Linked DNA regions of Homo sapiens: region 2 is linked to region 1. Evidence: fine-mapped expression QTL. Tissue or cell type: blood mononuclear cells. Region 1 holds a variant in brackets; the other region holds the start of a gene. All regions are shown on one strand. Distances are between the middles of the regions.

What was found. PIP is the estimated chance that this variant, and not a neighbour inherited with it, causes the effect.
Region 2: SHISA2 starts here. The variant in region 1 is fine-mapped to the expression of SHISA2 in blood mononuclear cells (TOPMed, PIP above 0.99). The same link has a PIP of 0.9 or more in T cells and whole blood.

What each region holds. Positions count from the first base shown.
Region 1 is chr13:26,013,655-26,021,751 of GRCh38, reverse strand. ATP8A2 (ATPase phospholipid transporting 8A2) reads right to left here. Exons shown (of 37, transcript NM_016529.6): 37 at 1-1,864. The coding sequence ends at 1,767. Among named protein-coding and RNA genes, the nearest start is that of SHISA2, 34 kb to the left of the region's middle. The variant C/T (reference allele first, on the strand shown) is at 4,023.
Region 2 is chr13:26,048,543-26,055,678 of GRCh38, reverse strand. SHISA2 (shisa family member 2) reads left to right here and starts at 3,663. Exons shown (of 2, transcript NM_001007538.2): 1 at 3,663-5,037. The coding sequence starts at 4,704. It overlaps LINC00415 (long intergenic non-protein coding RNA 415), which reads left to right. Exons shown (of 2, transcript NR_146971.1): 2 at 3,007-3,403.

The sequences.
Region 1 (8,097 bases):
AATTCATTCATTTCCCCACAGTGAAAATCCAAAACATGCTCTCCACTCCCATTTTTCACCAGTAACAGTTGCCCACAAGTATTTAGGCCATCCAAAAATCTGGTTTGGCAACCAGAGCAGAGAACAGGGCTCCAGGCAGGTTGTTTAGTAAGGGCTCCAGGTGCTCACATTCATGCCTGAAGACATCTAGGTTCTGTTGAGATTTAAGTGTGGGACTCTGCAGTTGGGAAAGTCAGTGATTCCGCTCTTCACTTCCTTGTCTTAGATAATTCAGGATATGCCGTATTCTGATAGGTACCTGTGTCTAACACTGATGGGATACAGAAAGGAAACCATGTCAGTATATTTTTTAAAAAGGTGTTTCCCTGAAATGTTTGGAATTCTTTTCAATTAGAACTGTGTGTGAAGGTCTTGTTTAAGCTCTCATACACACTGGGCTGATCATGACAATTGTCTGGGTCTCAAGGCCTATTTCAGAGTTTCTACTGCAAAGATCTGGTGGCGATTCCTCTGTGTCCTCCTCTCAGTGTCTCCGTGTCCTTCCTTCTCCTTCTGAGGACTTCTGTGGTCGTCTTGTTCTCCCCACTCAATGTCCTATACTCTTGCATCTGGGTTTACTCATCCTCTGACTCTAGAGCTAAGAGCGACAGGTGTGTTCCTTCGCTGTGCAGGCATGTTATAAATTCATTCATTTCCCAACAGTGAAAGTCCAAAATGTGCTCTGAAACAAACGTGGGTTCTAATGTAAGTGGATGCCAAAGGCCCAGCAGTCTGGATGTTGGGAAGGGAGTATTCAGAGCCTGACCACGGCTGGGAGTCCTGAAGGGGTTCTACCACCACTCTGACCTGTGGGGTGGCCCCATGTCAGACAGAGGCAGAGAGACGTTTAGAATATATGCAGAAAGGCTATGTTTCTTTTCTTTCTTTACAGAACGAGAAGGGCGGTGGAAGAAGGAATTTTTCGCATCTGTATCTGAGTCTGCAGTGGAACAAGGAAAGGCGCGGGTTTGGGTTGGCTGCCCATCGGCCGCCATGCACTGAGTGGTGTGGCCAGCCATGCAGCAGGTGTGGGGGTGAGGGGCGCCTGGACACGGCGGCAGGACTGGGCCGAGTGCACCTGGAGAGGGTGCGGAAGACTCTTCCAGGGCATCAGTTGGTTTGCCCTGCTGGAAATGTGGCTAAGAGGTTCAAATAAATGTTCTCAGGTTGACCACCCCGATAGAGAATTTTGTGATTTCACTGCAATCAAGAAGTTTATGCCAATTTTACACACAAAACAGGAATCAAAGCAGGAGAGCAACCTGCCTACAGTGAAGTCTGCATGTGGCCCGTTGGACTTAACCTCTGAGTTAACTCAACAGGAAGCAAGTGTGCCCTGCTCCAATTACACAGGATGGGCCTCTCACGCAACATAAAACTCCTTTCCCTTTCTCCCAGGACAACTAGTACTGATGTTTAAATATTGGTGAAACATAATGTTTTTAATTTCACACCTCACAGAGCACAGTTGAATGCTTCATAACGACATAAACAAAAGTTAGGCTAAGCACTGCAGACGAGTTGGGAGGGCAAAGATAGCTTCCCCTGTGGTCTGCACTCCAGGTTTGCGAGGGAATATGTAACTAACAAACTGCTTGGCTAAGGCCACAGAAATGTGTTTCCTGGTGTTTTGGCTGCTGACGCCAGTCTTCTCTGACAAAGATGTGTTAACACTGGGTGCAACAAACTGAATCTCTTTCCTAAGATCAGTCAGGAAAATTCATGTCTTATTTCTTCCTGGATTTCTTTTTGGTGGTGTCATAAGCACGGATGACTTCTTCCTGACTAACAGCTCCGTGTTCTTCTTGAGAAAAAGCATACCCATCTGAAAGTGAAGCACACAGGAGAAACTGGTTAACAGGAGAATTGGGGGAGCACACTAGGTTTAAAATAAGCTGCTTTTTTTTGGCAGCGTGCGGGTGAGTGCGACATCTGGCCTCCTTAGCCTTGGATAGGTGGAGGCTTGAGATGAAGAAACCTGTGGCCATAGAGGGGCCGTGGCGGCCGTGTGCAGGCTAACTGGGGTCCCATGGTTCTAGCTGCTGATGCTGGGAAGGGAAAGCCTCTGAGGGTAGGTTTCCTATTTCTAGGGGGCTGCGGCTGAGCTCAGTGTGGGAATCACACACAGTGGGTCACTGGTCCCCGACTCCACTTTCCCACTGCCAATTAAGAAAAAACACTCCTGTCTGCCTGATGCTGTAGGGCAGCCAGCTAATTTATGAAGCTGTAAACATGCCAGGGAAACACACACACAACACTAATAGTGCAAGCTGGCAAAATGCACGTGATACCTGGAGCCTTCCTGTTTATTTATTTGAGACAGAGTCTTGCTCTGCCGCCTAGGCTGGAGTGCAGTGGCGCGATCCCAGCTCACTGCAACTTCTGCCTCCAGGGTTCAAGCAATTCTCCTGCTTCAGCCTCTTGAGTAGCTAGGGCTACAGGCATGCACCACCACGCCCAGCTATTTTTTTTTGTATTTTTAGTAGAGACGGGGTTTCACCATGTTGGCCAGGCTGGTCTCAAACTCCTGACCTCAAGCAATCTGTCCACCTTGGCCTCCCAAAGTGCTGGGATTACAGGCCTGAGCCACCACACCCAGCCCTGTTTTTAAATCAGACTGATCTGGACTGGTAATAAGTAATCAAAGTAGGGTTGTTTCCATGTAAAGAAAAAGGTTACACAATAAACTCAAAAGGAATTTAGTGATTGATTGGACCTGTGGCCATACAAAGACTATTCTTACACAATCAGTTCATATACTATTAATAAAATAAATAATAGCCAAGACTCATTAAATGCCATGTGTCTAAGACACTGTGCTATAAAATAAAGCTCATTTAATCCTCCCAGAAACCCTATGAGATAGGGGATTATACTCCTCCCACTTCACAGATGAGAAAACTGAGGCACAGAGATTTTTGTGACCTGCCCAAGGTCACAGACCTCGTGAGTGGCAGAGCTGGGAAGCAAACCCAGGGTCCACACTCTAGAGCTGAGAACCAGCTTTAGTGTTCACAAGCCCAGAGTGGGGCTTTTCTTCCAACTGGCCCTTCCCACAGAAAGACATTTATAAGGCCTGCTCTCCATTGGCTAACCCTTCTGTGTCAGGGGTCTGGAAAAGTCCCACAGCTCAATTAGACATTCTGGCCAAAAGACAACACAATAAAAAAACCTGACAATCTTGAATTCCATCCATGCATGCGTACAACTTATCAGGGGAGCTGTGAGTTCACTGTCATACTCTTTAAAAGGAGAAAAGAAGTCGAAAAGGGTGCCCATGAATCAGTTCCTGGACTGCCTGTTAATTTCCTGAGGCATCTGGCTTAAAAAGGAAATTTCTAGAGTATCAAGACATACAGTAACAAGACAGAAGAGTCCTCGTGGGATGGAGAAGAGGAGGAGACTTTAAAAGAAGACACTCAGGCTGTTTTCTTACTCTGTGTGTTCCCATAACTGAGAGTCCCGGTCCTGGGCTGGCTTCCTGGCTCTTCCAGAGAGCATGCCTTCTGGCCACTGCCTGAGAATCCCAAAGGCTCAGGGGGGTTATCGGGGGAGGCAAGGGCTTGTCTGCAGAGGTGGCCTGAGAGTTGACTGAGGACATGGGCTGAGCAGCAGGGAGGAGGGCCCAGACCAGTGAGGCCACAGGAGGAAGAGACAGTGGGCGGGAGAGAAGGTGATACAAGCTGAGCCAGGGTGAACAGAACAGAAGAGAACAGAACAGAGAGGAATCTTCCACAGGGGGCTTTTGTCTACTTGCTCACCTCCATTTCTAGCAAAACAAAACCTACAAACCAAAAATTCCCACCACATGGTAGCCACAGTGAAGCAGCTCCCAGACCATTGTGAGCCCTCAGACAGCTGGGTACAGGAGCAGGTGGGTGTCTGAGCCTGAAGGCAGCATCAGCCTGGAGGGGAGCTCCCTTGGGGGCGGATATGCTTGTGCCAGCCTTGGGCCCACACCTAGTGCACTTGAACTTCCTGAC[C/T]AGGTAGGTGGCTGTGCTTTGATTCTCAGGGCTTTAGAGTTTTCACATGATCTGCTTTCAAGCACCGAAGAGCAAATGCCACCACTCCTGTTCTCCTAAGAGCTTTTGGATTTTCACCAAGTTGCTTAATCAGAGATTAGCAGCAGGGACAAGGAAACCTCCGTTGCCCAGCTTTGGAGGAGCTGCCCCAGCCTCCTGCCTCCCTCTGGCACCGTGTGGCACACACACTCTCATCCCCAATCCTGTACAAGCTGCCCTTTATGAAGCATTTTTACTGCAGTCCAAGAGGAGACGTCTTTCCTTGGGATGTTTCAAAGCAAAATCTAGCAAATAACACTGCTTCGTCTGCTCCAGTAACAAGGCTATGTACTGTGGTCAACTTGGACAATTTCCATTCTCCAGTTCTTTAACAAGGAACGTTTCTAGTCCACATCTGAAGTCATCCTGAGGGGGCCTGGCAGAACAGCAGCTGCAATGGCAGGGTCGTCACTGGCTCCACAGCTGCTGCACCACTCCCGGGGCTGCTCCTCAGTCCTACAGAAGTGGTTCTGAGTAAAGAACAGTCACCCCAAAGAATGGGACATACTCTTTTATAAACTCTTCCGGTGGGAAGCTGAGGACTACTGAGCTCTCCACCCTGAAGATGTCTTTCTCCACTCGCTTGTTTTCATCTTAGATTCTGGTGGCCCCAAGTGGCTGCAGCATGGGGTCAGGGTGGTGGCCAGGAAACAAAGGGTGGTTCTAGTCCTTGCTTGCTGCTACTTGTCCATGTGACTTTGGGATCTTTAAGCTCCCTGGGTCTTGATGTACTTTTCTGTAAATTAAATGGCCTGGACCAGGCAAGGCCCAAGTTCTCTCAACCTCCAGTCCTCTCTATGGGCTCCAGGACATGTTCATGGCCCGTCACACCCAGGCTGCAGGATTCTCTCCCTCTGTCAGTGCTAGTTCACACTGCACCAACACGGAGGCCTCTGCATCCACGTCAGAAAAGAAAGGGTCGGTGTCAACAGTCCATCCAAAAAGAATAATTAACTACCTATTATACCTCTTTTGGCCTGCTTTTTTCTCCTGGTTGGGGGGAACTCATGGAGACATAAAAATAAATTAGGGAGTGTCCTTTCGGGAAAGGTATCTTAGCCTTTGGAATAGTCTACTCCCTGTTCAAATGGAAGGTGCAAAAGCCTTTTCTTTTATTTATCTTGTTTTCCATAACATGCCTGTGTCTACTGGAAACCCAACTCCGGGGGTTTCTTCAGCTCATAACTCTGTCACTTCTTCTGTGTGCATTAGTGCCATGGCCACAAGGGCCTCCCATGGGATTGCAGCGGGATGATTTGGCCCCTCTGGGATGGGAAGGGTTTCGAGGTTTCCCTTTGAAGAGACAGGCAGAGAAGAGTTGCCCCTCCTGTTGTAAACCTCCCAGGGTAAGTAGAGCAACGTGAGGTCTGTGCTAAATGTCTCCCACCATCCTCCCTAGTTCCCATTGGCTGCACCTACCACCACATTTCCAGCGTGTTGTACGCTAAGACTTTCTTAACCTTAACCGAGAATGAAAGTGGACTCTACAATTCAAGAGTGAAAGGAGAATGGCCTGATAGGTTTATCTTGGGAGAGGGAGTCCTCCCATGTTCAGATAAAATTTCAGATTAAACATTTTCCTCTTAGAAACCAGGCCTGGCGGGAGTTAGAGCTGTCATGGGAGGAGTTTTACTGGAAAACCAGACACCATCACCCCTCAACCAGTCCTGCCTGCCCAGCCTCTGTCCCACCGGATGAAGATACAGACCTGCTCCCCAGCTCTGCCTAATGAACCTTTAACTGTCATTTGCATCCAAACGGGGAGCTCGGAGGAAGCCTCCAGCTCTTTGCACTCCCTACTTTCACTCATGTTTCAGGAAGTCCTAACAGCCAGAAAAGTCCTGATGGGGGCCTGGAGGGAGCTCTCATGGACCCAACTAACTGAACTTTCCCTGGCTGGCTTCCTAAAGCATCTGCTTTCTTAAACAGCCACAGCCAGAATGGAGAACAGAATCGTGTAGGTGAAAGGAGGTGGGAGGAAAGACGGATTTCTTAGTTGTTTTGTCTTCTCCGGGTAGAACATTTGGTGAAATCCATAAAATTATGTCTTTTTTTTTCATTATTTTGGAATAAAACTCCCCTTAAGTAGCATTCCTTTGAATCTGTGCTCTGATAGCATCTTAATGAAAATAGCAGTTTCCTGTCTGGAAAGATTCCTAATAGCCATAGAAATGAGAAGACCATGGGGACAAAGAGGAAATCAGACTGTGTAGGAAATGCTGATTACAAATATTGTATGTTGGTGGCTCACAGGAACTAAAATACTACCAAGATTAGAGTTTTTCCTGCTAGTTTCCTGGACAGACCCAGGCGGAACATCAAAGGCTGAGACCTGCTATATGCCCATCCTGCACCCCAGGACCAGCTCTGACCACCCGACGATCTTCTCTGGCTGTTAGTGACAGAAACGTCCTAAGTTATCCATCAGGTTCTGGTACTAGTCACTGAATGTTTAAAAAATGTGGTGTGATTTCAGAAGCCTTCTTATTTCTTATATTTATTCAGTAGATTTTTTTTTGGCCTTCAAAATATTGACTTAAGAAAAGCATTTAGTAGTTGTCTTTAAGACATTTATGACTCTCCCATAAAAATTCTCATTCGGTCTTTGATCACAACATATATATCGTGTATATTCTGTCTATGGTTATTTTGAAACATTCATCAGAGAGGCAACACGGCTCAACAGAACAGACCCTGTAGAGTTCTGGGAACCTGTATGTGTTTTCTCTGTGTCTGGCATACAGAAGGTGCTTTACACATGCTGTCATGAAGACTCACAGGACTGTGTAAGATGTATATCATTAAAATTCTTTTTTCTCCACAGGAGAAAATAAAAATTTAGAGAAATTAAGTTTCCCAAAATTATTCAGCTAATGGCAGAATAATAATACCCAACATTTATTGGACCCTATATTGCCTATATAGACACTTTATCTTTATGATCTCATTTAATCCTCCTAATTGAAACCAACCCAATAGTCCCATAGACAGTTTTGTTTTTGTTTTTTTGTTTTTTTAACATAGAAATGACCCTTCTGGTCTTAAAGCTTGACATTTGTATTTGTTTTATCTGAGTTCCTTCCTTAGGTAGGGACCCACAGGCCTCTCGAAAAGTAGCAAAGATCTGAAACTCACCCAATGATCTCATCCAGACAACGAGATGCTAAGCCCCTCATTCATCTTGATTGCTTCCTTACCCCTACTGATTCCTGTTTTCTTACACATTGTTAACATTTCTTCCCTGCTATATAAACCCCTAATTTTAGTCAGTCAAGGATATGGATTTAAGACTAATCTGCCACCTCCTTGGCTATAGCACCAGATAAAGCCTTCTTCCTTGGCTATAATTGTTGTTTCAGTGATTGGCTTTCTGTGCAGCTGTGGGTGGCAGGACCTACACTGAACCTCTGGCATCCAGTAAGTTCTCATATTACCCAACTTTACAGATGCAGAAGCAGACATTAAGTAACATGCCCAAGGTCACGAAAAAGCAGGGGAGCAGGGACAGGAACCCAGGCAGCCCATCTCCAGAGGGCTGCCCTACAGTTAGCACTCCTGTCCCATCAAACTTCTTGACTTACCTCTCTTTTGGGCCAGAGTCTGAGGCTGCAATCCAGACCTCATGGCATGCCACTGAGCAATGCTGGGCCACCCACTTTCTGACCTGAGCCTCTGCTTTGTGTCCTTGGGGTGGCATTACCCACCTCCCAGGGCAGTGGAGCATTAAAGGACAGAAGCATGTCAGTCCCCTTCTTCCCATACGATATTCCACATGGGAAAGTGAGGACAGGGGGTAGATTACTGAAAAGCAATGATACTCTGTCTCCCTCCTTCTCTCTCCATTGAGAAAGTCTGCAAATACCTGTTGACAGGCAGAGCTCAACAGAACACAGATCCTTCACTGCCTGTACTGTGTGAACAATGATTCTTCACGTTCATAAATCTGTCTCTTTCTTTCTTTCTTTTTTTTTTTTTTTGAGACCAAGTTTCGCTCTTG
Region 2 (7,136 bases), 34 kb before region 1:
TTTCGTATATATGATTTGCAAGTCTTCGCACATTTTGCTTTTGTTTATGCCATTCTTTTAGATAGGAAGGCATTAGTGAAATAAGCCCTCCGTGAAACTCCATATCTCCAAAATGGAAATATATCCATAGTAAACATCAAAATCAAAATTAAAGGGGGTTCAGTAAAACAATGGAGTAAGGAGGGGGGATGAGAGAGAACTATGTCAATAGTTTATAATGACAAATGAGAAGAAATATAATTGAAAATATGGAAATTACTTTTCTGGAAGTCAGTATGTCAATTACAATAAAAATAAGGAGGGTGAAAAATTAAAACTTTTAAAGCAAGAACAATTTTTTTTCATAAATTTATGAACATTTTTGAACATAAGTTTAGGTAAACAGAAGACAAAATTAAAATAAATGTAAATTAATATATTTGTTTGGGTTTTCACAAAAACACTCTAACTTAAAAGAACTTTTGGTAAACCAAATGCCAATTTTCAGTACTATTTCTATTTATGAGAGAAGAGGAGAAAAAAAAATGAATGAACCCAGTGAAAGCCATTCTCCCTAAACAGACTGCTGATGGATGTGCAGATGGTAAGAACCTTCTGCTCTTGCTGAAACTTGCAGAAAAACACTGTAGATCTTGCAGCTTTTAGAACTGCCAGCCAAATGAAATATTATTACCTCCATCTGATTTGTATCAACTCCAGTTAGTAAAGTTGTAAGTAATCATTTCTTTAGTTATATGACTTGCTATTTGTACTAGTGAAGATATGTCAGAAGTTTGCTTTTAAATCAATTGGATTTTATTCATATATATATTTATATATATATGCACAGGCACATACTGAAAGGCAAAATAACTTGAAAATATACTTTTTCAGTTAGTGACTATAGAATTCAACTTTTTTAAAAAGAGGGCTGCACTCTTTCATATGTTTTTCAATATATTTTGGCAGACTGCCTAACATTTCATTTTGATTATCATAAATTATGATTACTACTACCTATATGTTGTAATTACTAGTTATAGCTTCTCAGAAGAAACGAGTGAAATAGTTTTGGTTGTCTGTTAAGACCAATGAGGGAATTTCTTTTTATTTCCTATGGAAGGAACAAGCCTATTTTAATATCTCCCAGTGGCACCTCCCATGCAGAACCTCACTAAATACTTGGCAAGTTATTTTATAAAATTTCAGTTCAACATTCCAGATACACAAAGAAACGATAATACAAGAGAGACAAAGTGACATAAAGGACCTTTCAGCATTGAAGACAGTCAACCACTACGTAAAGTAACTATGAAAGGGCCTCTCCTTAACTTTTAAGGAAGAAAAGAAACACAGTAATTAAAAAAAAAAAAAAAGACGAATTTGCTCAGAGCGCCATACTTCTAAGTTCACCAATTATAGATTAAATTGTAGACTATTTGGCAAAAACATTGTGTTTTAAAGGTGGCACTATCCAGTCACCAAATCAATTCCAATATGAAATGTTAAACAATTTTTTTTCTTCATAAATAAACTCTGACAAATTGTGGATGTTTTGGTGAGTAGGATAAGTGGATCCTGGAAGGAGGTTATAGGCATAGGTACTGTCTGAAATAATACAATTCTAAATAGAACAATAAGTACAATTCTCTCGCATTAATTGTTTTTCCAAATGGCAAAATTGAAAGTATTCACCCTCTGAACACTACCCAAATCAACTCGTGCTGCCATAGGAGCATCTCATGATCTGTACAGGACTCCCAGTTAATCAATCCTGGGCTTTCTGTAGTGGCGGCTGTGGTGATCAGCAGTGCGGTGAGTGGGGTTTGGAGTCAGGAAGAATTGGGTGCAGTCCAGGCAAACCGACGCTCTCTATCTTTAGGGATTGAGCAAGTATCCTCACCAGTAAAATGAGGATAGTAATACTGTCTTATTTATAGGGCTGATGTGAGGATTAAATGAAACCATGCACATGAAATTCTTAGCGTGGTGCCTAGCCCATAGTAAGCTCTCAATAAATGTTGGCTAATGGTGTCTTCTAAGAAAATGACTCATTCTGAAAAACTCAATCTTCCCTTGGCTTCTTCTGGTCTCTTTTTAAGTGTTACTCCTTTGATGATTTTTCTGACCTCCTTCCCCACCCTAACCTAGATTATGTGCTTAAATTGATGCTGTTCTCATTGTGGGTAAGAGCTTTGATCATACTTGCATTCTCTTTGCTTATTCAGTTCTTTGTCTTTTTGTCTGATTTCTGTATTTTACCCTGGAGACTTTAGGCCCTATTTGAAGGAAATGGCCATGCTGTCTGGCTTCTTGATGAGTCCCAGTACCCAGCACAGAGCACAGTACACTGTAAGTGCATGGCGTGTATTTCTTGAATGAATGATTTCTTGACATTGAAATTTTTTTTAGCTTACTAGCTTAAGACATTTGGTGAATAGTGCATTTAAAGTATATAATTTTGTGTAGCTTAAAACGATACACAACCAAAAAACTGCAAGAAAACAAAGTGCAATGCTTGGAGAGAGGTTTAGTGAAAAGAATAAGGTGTGTGTTGGGGAGCAGGGACATAGGGTAGGGTTTTTTTTCTTGGATTTGACATTGTTGGGGCAAGTGGAAGAATAATCAACAATGTCTGAATCTTCACATTAACCAGGCATACACAAGCATCCAATGGCTGCTTGAACCTGAGTGTCTTTGCTGTGAATAAAACTGCCTGTGTTCTGAAGTCATGGACTTGAAAGGGACCTTAGTGATCGTCACATCCTATGCTCCACTTTATAGATGAAGAAACTGAGACCAGAAAAACGCAGTGATTCCCTGCTAGTAGGGCTGGGTCTAGAATTCAGGTCTGCTGACTCCCAGACGGTGTGGGAAGGGGCATTCGTTCCTTTAAAAATAAGCACTGCTGCTTTAATAACATCAGCACCTGTTGTTCCAGCTTCTGCAAGAGAGAAGCTATTAATTTCTCCTTCATCAAAGCTGAATTTCTGGTCTGTCTGAACCTTGTTTTCTTCCTGACTGCAGCTGTCTAAACCACTAAGGCCACATGTTGGACGGAGGCACTTTCCTGCTGGAATCCGATAAATCACCACACCCAAATATAGAAAGAAAAAGGGACACAGATCATCCACACCGTGGCCGAATGTGTGACATCTTTGCTGAACTCTCTCCGTTCCACCTTGTGGTGGAGGCCTCCAGTCCACCAAACACAGCCCTAGGCGTGTGAACCCTGCCACAAACATCGGTGCTCTTCCTGCACAGGGCCTGGGACCAACCGTGGCCAGGACATCAGCTGCTGGAAGCCGAGAGAGTTCATCTGAGTGGCGATTTTATGATCTGCAGAGTGGAAAGTAATCATAATCCCTTGAGAAGTTTGCAGAATCGAACCGAATGTTGAATGCCAAAGATCTTCACAAAGCAAGTTGAGTTTCTTCCGTTATTATTGTTATTTGTGTTAGCGAGGCCTGGATTGCTTAGGTTGGGTTTCCTCCCGCGCCTATTCCAGCAGGCAGACCCCGCCCTTGGCCACACCTTTCTCCTTGCCCGGGGTAGGAAAGTGAGGGGCTGCCCGGCGCCCGCGGGCGTCCCTGAGGTCGGGGGTGGGGGGGAGCCGCGCAGCGCGCATGCGCGCCGGGGAGCCGCCGGCCTCTATAAGAGCGCGGCTCAGCGCGGCAGCGAGCGGAGTCGGAGCTGGTCTGGCGCCGGGCGGGGCGAGGCGAGGCTGTGGGCGGCTGCTGCGCTCGGCTTCTCCCGTAGCCCGGAGGAAAGAAACTTCCGTGGGAGGCTTCCATCGGTGCGCACACCTCCCGAGGGCGAGGCAGCGACCGGGAGAGGGAGAGCCGGCCGGAGGCTGCCGGGCTCCTGTGGGACCGCGCTGCAGCCGGGGAGGCGGAGAAGGGGAACCGGGGCGAGCCGCCCGCCTGGATCCGCGCCCAGCAGCAGCCGCGGCCGCCGCCAGCTGGGCAGGCTCCCGGGACTGCGGCTGGGGGCGCGCAGGACCCTCGCCTGCGTCCTGGACGTTCCCGGGGTCAGGAGCGCTCCCTCGGCGACGTGCTGGGAAGATTGGCCGTCGGCCCCGCCGAGTGGAGCGTCGGGGCTGCACCCCCGTGGGCTGCCCGGGCGGCCCGGCCGGAGCCATGCGGACCAAGTTCGGGGCAGAGGAGGCTGAGCGCGGCCGGCTGCGTCACTTGCTGCCCAGAGCCTTGCGTGCACTGCCCGCCTTCGCCCCTTCTACCCGCCCGAGGAGGGAATAAAGGAGGGGAGACGGGCCCTGATTCGCGCGCGGGACCCTGAGGCTTAAACCCTGCGCAGAGCCCTGGCTCCAGGTCCGCGGCGGCGCGCCCAGCGGTCATTCGGCTCGAGTGAGCATCCCTTCGGGGATGCTCAGGGAGGGTCCGGTTGCCAGTGAAACCTCCAGAGGCTTCCGGACGACAGCCCCGGGGGCCTTCTGACTGCATCCCGAGATTTCCATCAGCGAGTGCAACTCATAAGGCAGTCCCTAAGGGGACCGGGCCACCGGCTGAGGACGGGGATGGCTTAGGAGCTCCTGGACCTAGGGCCCGGCGTCGTCGCCTCCTGGGCGTCGCGGCAGAGGGGAGTGGCCCGCGCGGAAAGCGCCGCGGGACAGTCAGTGACGAGGCCCGGGGGTCGCCGGGGCCACGACTTCTCGGAGACCGTCCTGCGCTCTCTGGAGACGCGCTGTCCGCGCCCAGGGTGGTGCCATGTGGGGCGCTCGCCGCTCGTCCGTCTCCTCATCCTGGAACGCCGCTTCGCTCCTGCAGCTGCTGCTGGCTGCGCTGCTGGCGGCGGGGGCGAGGGCCAGCGGCGAGTACTGCCACGGCTGGCTGGACGCGCAGGGCGTCTGGCGCATCGGCTTCCAGTGTCCCGAGCGCTTCGACGGCGGCGACGCCACCATCTGCTGCGGCAGCTGCGCGTTGCGCTACTGCTGCTCCAGCGCCGAGGCGCGCCTGGACCAGGGCGGCTGCGACAATGACCGCCAGCAGGGCGCTGGCGAGCCTGGCCGGGCGGACAAAGACGGCCCCGACGGCTCGGCAGGTAGGGCGGCCTGCGCCCAGCGCGAAAGGGAGGACGGTTGGCGTTGCCTGGACGTCAGGGACCTGGGAGTTTGAAGGGGGGAAATTCAGGAAAGGGCCTAGGACCAGGAGGCGGAGTCTGCCTTCTGGCTTATTATTTGGTCGGTGTGGGTCCCTAATTCACCCTCACGGGCCTCAGTTTCTCCATCTGTCAGCCAAAGGGTGGCTTAGAGTTAATTTTCCGAACAAAATCACACTCCTAAGGCAGTGTGGGCCACAGACAGCCCCCATATTCCTTCTGACCAGGGTCCTCCGGGCCCCTCTGGCGTCTCCTGTCTCCATAGGGCTTCATGTCTTAGGGGTACCCAAGGAGACGGCGAGGGTGCGCCCCCACCCGTGAGGGCCTGGCAGCGGTGCTCCCCTGAAGGCTCCCCGAAAGGAAGGCAGCTCCTCAGGGCTTTCCCGGGGCTGCTGCCCCGTGCCAGACGCCGCGGATTCCCATCTTCTCCACGCGGCGGCCCCTCTCCCCTGCAGCGGCCCGCCTGTGGGGCTTCTGGACTGTTTTCCTTACCACGTCAGACTTAGTAGGTGTAACATCGGAGCAGTGCCCAGCCTTGCTCTTTGTGGCTTTGATTTTTTTTTTCTTTCAAATTGCCAAAGCCAGAGTTGGAAAGTAAACCCGTGAAAGAATTTGGTAGGTTGCACTTCACTCTTCAGAAACCTTCCGGAATGCCTCCCTGGGGTGTCTACACCAGTCACTCCGTGTGTGTGTGTGTGTGTGTGTGTGTGTGTGTGTGTGTTATTTATTTCGGGGGAGGGGAGGTGTAGAGGTAAAATGGCAAACGTGTCCCCGAGGGGGCGGCTCCTCCTCTTTGTGGGCCCGTTGTGTTTACCTGGGAGGCTTTTCGCTAGCATCCTGAGCCTGGGTTCGGGCTGCTTGAGCTTTGGCACAGCGTAGTTTGTGTTTATAGAGCTGCCTCCCAGGACCTCGTGAGAGACAGCTCTTTTCAGTGCCGTTCCCTTTCGCAGTCAAGCATTTTATTAGCATGCTACTCCTATTGTTCTGCTGTCTTGAATCTGAAGAGAGCGTAATTCCAGAACCAGCGCAGTCTTAAAACGCAAGCTCAGTCTCGCAGACTGTGTGGCCATGGAAGAAAGCCCAGAGAAGGGAGCCAGACCCCGAACTGCTACAGTGAGATGTCTGCTAGATTGGGCTCATTAATGGTCTCCAAAAAGTTGGGATGGCTTTGGATTAGTCGGGACTTCTCAGGACGAGACTTCTCATGACGCCCTGTGTTGTGCATGGATGCCTTCTTCATGCTACTTTTAAACGTTTTTTTCCTAAAAATTGTATTTCTTTCACTTTTCTTCTGCAGTGAAGGGCAACATGCCTAATTAAGCCTGCCGGGGGGCTTATAGTAGCGTTACATTCCTTATCCCTGTGTAGTTATTTACATTTCCAATTAAAAATCCTGGAAAGAGAACACTTATTTCTCCCCAAAACTCATTATGTGGACTGAGGCTGGTTTCAGCTAGTTTCTGCTATGATTGGGGTACATTTTTTTTCCTGCTTTACTACTATTAATTTATTTTTTGATAACATATTTAGGGCTGGTGTCTTAATTTAGAGAATGAAATATTTATAACACGCCAAGGAAAAAGCCTGCATCCACTTCTCCAGTGATCCGTAGTTAGCCTGAAGTGATAGTGTAATTAGGACAGTTCTACTGCTGGGCGCCAGCTGTGCTGCAGACACTGTAGCAAATGTTTCTACCTGCTAAAGGGGCGCTATATATAGAAATTGCTCTGTTCAGCATTGAAACTCCAGGAAATATTCCACAGTCAGCCTTTGGTTAAATACCTATAAAGTATTGTTTTACTTACAGGGCATTATTTCTCCATAATTCCACCTGGTATTATACTTTAAAAACACTGACTCCAGCAATACCAGAACAGTGAAAAGGAGCATAATTAGAAAGCCCGGCTGCTCTAATGGATGATGAAAGGGTATTCATAGAGCTGACCTCAAAGGCGTGGTCTCCTTCCTAAAATGCTGCCCCATCCGACTCTGGGCTGGCATTATGCTTTGCCAAGACCAGTAAGACCCAATCCACCCCTGTG